Homo sapiens: one gene and its partner. The protein of the gene in region 1 interacts with the protein of each later gene in a pairwise test. Each region holds a gene or a part of one and is shown on either strand. Other genes may lie near its edges.

The links. The genes of interacting proteins can lie anywhere in the genome.
Region 2: the proteins of BFSP2 (region 1) and ZNF343 interact in binary tests that used the Homo sapiens proteins (3 or more experiments, as listed by UniProt).

The regions. Positions count from the first base shown.
Region 1 is NC_000003.12:133,402,915-133,406,662, reverse strand, and holds part of BFSP2 (phakinin), read right to left. Parts: intron 1-3,748.
Region 2 is NC_000020.11:2,506,866-2,510,613, reverse strand, and holds the start of ZNF343 (zinc finger protein 343), read left to right. Parts: upstream 1-1,698; 5' UTR 1,699-1,733; exon of another isoform or gene 1,734-1,814; intron 1,815-3,748. UniProt on the Homo sapiens protein: May be involved in transcriptional regulation.

The DNA.
Region 1 (3,748 bases):
CATGTCAAAGGAAGTCTCTAATCATCCTCATTATTCAGATGAGAAACTGAGATGCAGAGATCAATGAAGACCTTGGCTCAAGATCACACGGTTGGTAGATGGCAAGCGGCAAGGCTAGGGGCTGTCTGGCTTCAAAATCCCCAGTCTTTGCATCACATCTAATTTTCCCTAGTTTTCATGGAAAACTGACCCCACCCCCTGTCTTCCATTTCCCAACATGGAACTCACATTTTAAGAGATCTTAAGAGGTTTAAGAGTGGCCGAGTGTGGTGTATGAGAGGGGCATGGAAAGAGGCCCTGAGTGCCACACCCTAGTCTCCCTCTGTTTTCTTTAGCAGTTCTCTTGCTTTCCAGACACATTCAACTTCCAGAAACCACCTTTCTTAGAAAGCAGCTTAGTGACTGGCTGGGCACGGTGGCTCACGCCTGTGATCCCAATACTTTGGCAGGCCAAGGCTGGTGGATCACCTGAGGTCAGGAGTTTGAGACCAGCCTGGCCAACATGGTGAAACCCTGTCTCTACTAAAAATACAAAAAAAAAAAAAATAGCTGGATATGGTGGTGGGCACCTGTAATCCCAGCTACTTGGGAGGCTGAGGCAGGAGAATCGCTTAAACCCGGGAGGCGGAGGTTGCAGTGAGCCGAGATTGCGCCACAACCTGGGCAACAGAGTGAGACTCCATATCAAAAAATAAATAAATAAAAATAAATAAAGAGGCTTAGTGGCCACCTGTATTATATGAACAAGACCCTTGGGAAGCAGGCTCATGCCTCCTTCTCCCCCTCTCCCATCAAAATATTTCTTCCAATCATATACCTCACTCTTCCTAAGAGGAATGAATCTCTCTAACGGACTTTTCTCTGGTAGCTACATTTCTAACCATACTGTAGTGTCCCTTATAGCTTGGCTGACAAAGAAACCGCCCCACTGGCCTGCTCTGACCAAACAAATTGCACTGATTAAGAAACAGGCTGAGTGACTTTTTCTTGGGGAAATGTGTTCAGGCCTTTGCAGATTATGATTCTGCCCCCATCACCTACTTTCCAGGGATACCAGGTTGTAAATCATGAACAACAAACCCTGTTGCCTTTATTTATTCTCAGTGGAGAAGGATTAGTTCTTGTTTTTTTTTTCTAAAAAGAGAGCCTTCTAGGACCACAAGTTCTGTGGGAGAAACCTGGCCCAGATCTGGATTGCCTGAGTTTCCAGCATGTTCTTCAAGTAGGCAGATTCCCTGAGTATGGGCTGTCTCTGTGCAAGGGACAGAAAGACGGGCTGTGAACAGCAGGAAAAATAGTCAAATCAGGTCCATTTTAAACTCTAATCCTTTGCCTTTCAACAATTTTGATTTCCCATTTTCTCCAGCTGACAGCCTTATCCTTTGGAGGTATAAGCTGCAGTTTTCTCCCATGGAGACCTAGACAAATGTCCTGGCTCCTTAATTTAGAACCTCTGCGCTCCCCTTTCTTCCTCAGGCAGCTTCATTCTCCCCCTGGCTTCAGCTGTTCCTTTTGTTTTGACACCTGGTCTCTGAGGGCTGCTCCTCTGACCCCACTCTCCTTTCATCTGCAGCTCCGAGGCACAAGGCTGCCTTATTCCAAGCTTGTGTTTGGCCTATTTGAGGATGAAAGGGCCTGATGTTGCCATCAGAGCCTATTGTCAGCATCGTTCATTTGGTAAGAAAAGTCAGGAGCACAGAGCAAGGCTGGAGAGGGAAATGGCCCAGGTCTTCCTCAGCCTCTGTAGTTGCCACCTGGGGTTTTTCTGTCCGTTTTCACCACTTAGCGAGGCTTGGAGGTTCTAACACAGCTGAGGAGTGGGAGGAGAGAGGTTTGGAATTGAAACAGAACTTCATATGCATGAACCCTAACTAGGACCAGCTATATAATTTGCGGATCCCAGTGCAAAATGTGGGGCCCCATGTTCAAAGAGCAGGAACAAAGTGCGATTTAAGTTACTCAAATATAATGCTTTTTCCTTTCTTCTGTCATGTTTCAACTTGTTATGGTAATTTTTATCTGCTATTTAATTTCCACTCCCTGGGGAATGGGGATGCTCATGCAGACCTTTATAGGCATCCAGAGGCCTCGCTCCATGATTCTGGGCATGTGCATACCCCACCAATGGCTGCGGTACCTTTCTTACCGGCCATTGGACCGATGTACCATGTCCTGCTGGTGGGGTGGGGTGATAACCCCCAAGAATATTACGACCTCAGTGCCACCTGTAGGTACCTGGGTTGGGGGTGAGCAAGAGGCTTGTCCTCTCCCTCCAGTTGCTGCCACCCAGGGGCTTGGAGCAGGTGTCAGAAGGGGCTCCCAGGGGCAGAGAGGTGGGCCAAGAACCTGTTGTAGGGAGACAGAGGGAGGTAGGACCATTCAAGAGCCCCTGGTCCATACTCCATTGTCCCACAAGACTTCACTTTTAAAACACAAATTCAAAGATAAAACTATTGGCTGGGCACGGTGCCTCATACCTATAATCCAAGCCCTTTGGGAGGCCAAGGCAAGAGGATCTCTTGAGGCCAGGAGCTTGAGGTTGCAGTGATCTCTGATGGCATCGCTGCACTCCAGTGCAGCATCCTATGAGACTTCACTGGTGGTGCACCCATGGAGCCAACCCTGGCCCCAAACTTACATAGTGATATAAGGATGAGGAAGATTCCCCCCTCCCCAGGACGGCCTTCCTGATTCTGCCATGGTGTGAGCCCTCCTGGCACCCTAGTTTCGTGTTGCTTTCCATGATGTGACTCTCTGCACAGTGACAGCAATTGTTTCCCTCCTCCTGGCTCCTCTTCCTGGCTTTTCTGAAAACCTGTCTTTGTCTCCTCTGGGTGGGGGTGAGACAGGCTGTGGGGAGATTCCAGGGGACAGGGGACCCCCACTCCCCAGAATGGCCCCAGGAGCTTTCTGTGCTAGCTGGGGTGGTGATGGCAGGGAGGAGAGCCTGTCTCCTTTCCAACTCTTCTCCCCCTCTGAAAGCAAGAGGAAATGTTGTTTCCCAAACATTTATGGAAATTGTTGCCTGCTCTGACCTTCCCCACTGCTTGCTCCAGCCTGATCCAAGAAAGTGCCACCAAAATGGACATCCCCACCGTGCTATTGAGTGACTGAGGTCTCTCTTGGATTCTCTGTTTGGGGCCCAGGCTAAGGAGGTCGAATTTCTCTCTAGGTGCCAACTTGGGGCTCAGTTGCTGAGAGCTTGCTCTGAGGCCTCAGGCCCTGCATGGGCCCTGAGGAGTCACAGAGGGTTGCCATGGAACTGAGCTGCAGGACCAGGAGGAGTTCTGTGGACAAGGGGGGGAAGAGGCAGCTGCAGGTGGAGAAACAGGAGGGGTAAGGAGTGCTGTGAGGAGCACGGAACACCAGAGCCCAGAGTCTGGAAAGGTGGGCATGAAGCCCCAGCCAGAGTGGCCTAAGTGAGGGCAGAGGGAGAGAGCTCTGGATTTCTGGGGCCCAGGACCGCAGAGTGGCTGCCTCTGACCCCAAGTGAGATGAAGGCAGCGTGTTGTGGAAGGACTGGGCTGGGAGGTGGCCTTTCCTCTAGGCCTGGAAAGGGGTGGGGGCCTGGTGGGGGCCTCCTGCAGCTCCACGAGGCCAGATTCACTGAAAAAATCAGGAGCATTTCTCAATTATGGAGTTTTCTTTTGTTCTTCTTGATGGAATAGAGTTTAATATGGCTGAAAGGCTGGGCTGTGCAATATAGAAAAAGTAACTCCAGGCTGGGCATGGTGACTCACTCCTGTAA
Region 2 (3,748 bases), on another chromosome or scaffold:
AAAGGCAGGACAGAATATCAAGAAATGTTTGTCTGTCTCCTGGCTCACAACGGCCTTGGGGCCATGTTCTCTATCTCCTGAGTACTGGAGAACAGAGAAGCCTCAGAAGGCTGATATTGGGAAGGTGAAAAGAAATAAGAAGATGGAAGGAGGTGTTGGAGAAAATAAAAACAAAATCTCCTGCTAACCCAGAAAATCCCCTTCACAAACGTAGAAAAGAAGGAGAACAGTTTTATTACCAAATAATATTGAACTGGACTGGGAAGCACATTGTAGACAATCTGCTAATCAGATGCCAGACAGAAAGAGATCTTACTTTTTATCTAGTTGGGCAGATACAATCTATTACAAACATGTCCTCAAAATTAATGGTAATTTGCCCCCTTGTAAGAGGATTTGACATTGTTTGCTATACAATTTTTCATAATTCATTCTAAATTCACCTGGTAATTGGAGTAGCCATCTACACTAGTTAATTGCCTTTATCAAAAAGAAAAAATAAAACTTTTATCTGTGACAAGCGGGCAGTTACGAGTTTGGAGCTAGGCACCTAAGCTAAACTCCCAAGGTGACAGGGAGATAAGGGCACTATCTTCTTCACTGTTTACATTTCAAAGAGATGGCTCATCAGGCCTTTGGGGGAAACATTCCTCTTTTGTAAAGTTGGCAGGTGCTTATTCAGCCTTTCAAAAGTATCAGGTACATATCAAAGGAGCACTTATACATAGATTTCTCATGGAAATACTCCAAGGGCGTGAGGTCAGGTTTATTTCCCCTTCAGTAACAAGTAAAATTTAATTCAATTTGTATTTGCCATTAAGATTTAAACGCGCCTCCTATGAGCTGAAGGTCTGATCTGCAAACCCCTAATTGCCGTGTTGCAGAAGGTACCAGCGTAGCCCAGTTTTAAAAATATTATTAGTTTTAAAATATATACATTTAACTCCTGGGCTCAAGCCATCCTCCAGCCTCAGCCTCAGCCTCCCTCGGGGTTACAGGAATCCCAGGCGCGCGCCACCACGCCCGGCTCTAGTAGCCCAGATCTGAACCGGGATCTTAGATAAGAGGCCAGAGAGCCAGACTCCAGCCTGAGTGAAGCTTCCACCCTCCAGAAACTGGATGAGAGTCTGTCCCTAACTTTGAGGACTTCGACAAGAAAGGTGACTACAGGCCACCCACAGGAGTGCACTGGTGTTGAGGGTAAGGGTTCAACTGAGACGCTGGGAGGCGGCTTTGCCCTGCCTGTGTGTCACAGGCAACACGAAGTCGAATCTACATAGTGCTCACGCAAGGTAGTTCGCGTGCTATGGAGCCTCAGCCCAGGGAATTCAGGTGGTCCGGTGCAGTAAACTCTGTACCCAACACACGCCTGACAGACAGCGCATTGCTCCCGCTAGATTCGCCAATCGGAAATGACTTCTCTCGTTGACCCCAGCTTCCGGAAGCGCCTGCGGAAGCTGCCGCAGAGGCTTGTGGGGAGTGTAGTCTTTTTTTTGCAGAATGGGCCAAGGGGACAGAGACTTCACTCGGGAGCCAGAACCTGTTTTCAACATGGGTATTTTAAGAAGAGACGGAGAGGCTGTCACTGCAGTGGTCACTGTCCTGGAAAAGTAACCGTTGCACGGCCCAGAAGTGGCTCTGTGGCGGCCAATGGGAGCCGAAGCCTGCGAGGATGTTGGGAATTGTAGTTCTGGCGTCGGTCGGTGGCCGAGATCCCGGGCACGCTGGCTCTGGTGAGCGCGGCCTCCGCGGCTCCTTGGCCCCAGGATGCCCTCTCTCGTGGGGAAAGGAGGGTCGGGAAAGGCCGAGCGTAGGTTAGGACGCGGGGTAGAGTGTGGCCAATGGGGAGTGCGGGTTGGAGATATTTGGTTTTTGGAGGAGAGGGCGCAGCTCGCGGTGCTCATTGGGGCGAGGCGATGGGGTGAGCCCCTGCTTGCCCGGACCTCCGCGGACCTTTTTTCCCCCCGGGGGGACGAGAGTGACCTAGAACTCTAATGCCTGTCTTGAACCAGGCGGGATTATTCTGGGTCAACCAGTTTTCGAATACGGAGGGCGGCCCCAGTCGTGCGTCCTGGGGTTTATTTGGGCTGTGGGGTTGAGTTCTGCCAGGGCCAAATGGACCAACATCCCCGCGGCTGGGGTGGGGACGTGGCTAGGTCCGCACATCCCTGGGTGGTTTTTGGCTGGGGAGCGTCTTGAGTCCTGCATCACCGAGTTTTTCTGTTTTTTGGGTGGGGCTGGATATGTCCCGAGTGGTGACCGGGGTGGTTAGGGGGAGGCCGTCTCAGGCCTTGATGCTTGATGGACCTTGGTTTATTAGGGGTTGGGGGGTTGGAAGTGGAGGTGAGCTTGACGTGGTCAAAATATCCTGAGAGGGCCTGGGCGAGTGTCTTGGGTCAGGAGTCCCTGGGGTTTTTAGGGAGGTGAGGGAGGTTTCGTCCTCTGATAGTGGTGGGCTGTATCACTCTGACAGGCATCTAGGCAGCTCTTTTGAATGGGGGCAGGTCTTTTCTCTGGGACCTGTTGTCTCAAGGTGTGTCATGTGGGAGGTGCCCCCTGTGCTTTGTGGCAAAGTTCCTGGGTTTGGTCGTCATCTGGGTGGCCCGTCTGGCTGACTCCTTTCCTGGACTGCTTTTCCCTCACATGTTAGGGCCAAACATCTGGTTTGGGGCTGTGAAGGGTTAGGTCTGGTGGGGAACTCTGACGGCTTCTAGTTAACAATCCAAATCACTTCCGGCATATGGTGAGTTCTGGATATCAGGCGTTTAATTTTATTTTTAATTTTTTCGTAGGGACAAATTTTAAACCTACCTAGTAGAGCTATTCAGTGAACTGCCACGGACCTGTCACCAGATTCCACATTTGTTAACTCATGGCCAATTTTGTTTCATCTACATCCCCTCAACCCTATGTGTGGATACACTTTGAGAATTGTCAGACCCCACAGGGATTGGCCATTGCTGACATCATTACTGGCCCAGCTGGCTAAGCGTGTGGCGCTCCACAGCTAGACTTCAAATCTAGGCACTTTCTAGCATTGTCAATTTGAGGAAGGTGTAGAACTCATGGAGCTTTGGGGAGGTAAAACTTGCATGGTGTCTGGAATTGCCTCTGGTATACAGTAAGAGTTTAGTAAGTGTTAACTATTACTAATAGTATTATAATTTGAGGCCCATAGGCATTAAAGGGATAAATATGTAATAGCAGCTTGTCAGGGCAGACTGTATTCTGATGTCCCCACATGGTTCTGTCCCCTAGAAGCTGTTTACATTATTCTCTTCTCTGACAGATCTGAGGCTTATTTTGTTAAAGGAAAAGGAGGCCTGCTCTTTTTTTTTTTTTTTTTTTTGAGACACAGTTTCACTCTTGTTGCCCAGGCTGGAGTGCAGTGGCGCGATCTCGGCTCACCGCAACCTCCACCTCCCGGGTTCAAGCGATTCTTCTGTCTCAGCATCCCGAGTAGCTGGGATTACAGGTGTGCGCCACCATGCCCAGCTAATTTTGTATTTTTAGTAGACACGGGGTTTCTCCATGTTGGTCAGGCTGGTCTCGAACTCCTGACCTCAGGTGATCTGCCTGCCCCGGGCCTCCCAAAGTGCTGGGATTACAGGCATGAGCCACCGCTCCCGGCTGGCCCACTCATTTTATTTTTTTATCTTTTTTTTTTTATTATACTTTAAGTTCTAGGGTACATGTGCGCAACGTGCAGGTTAGTTACGTATGTATACATGTTCCATGTTGGTGTGCT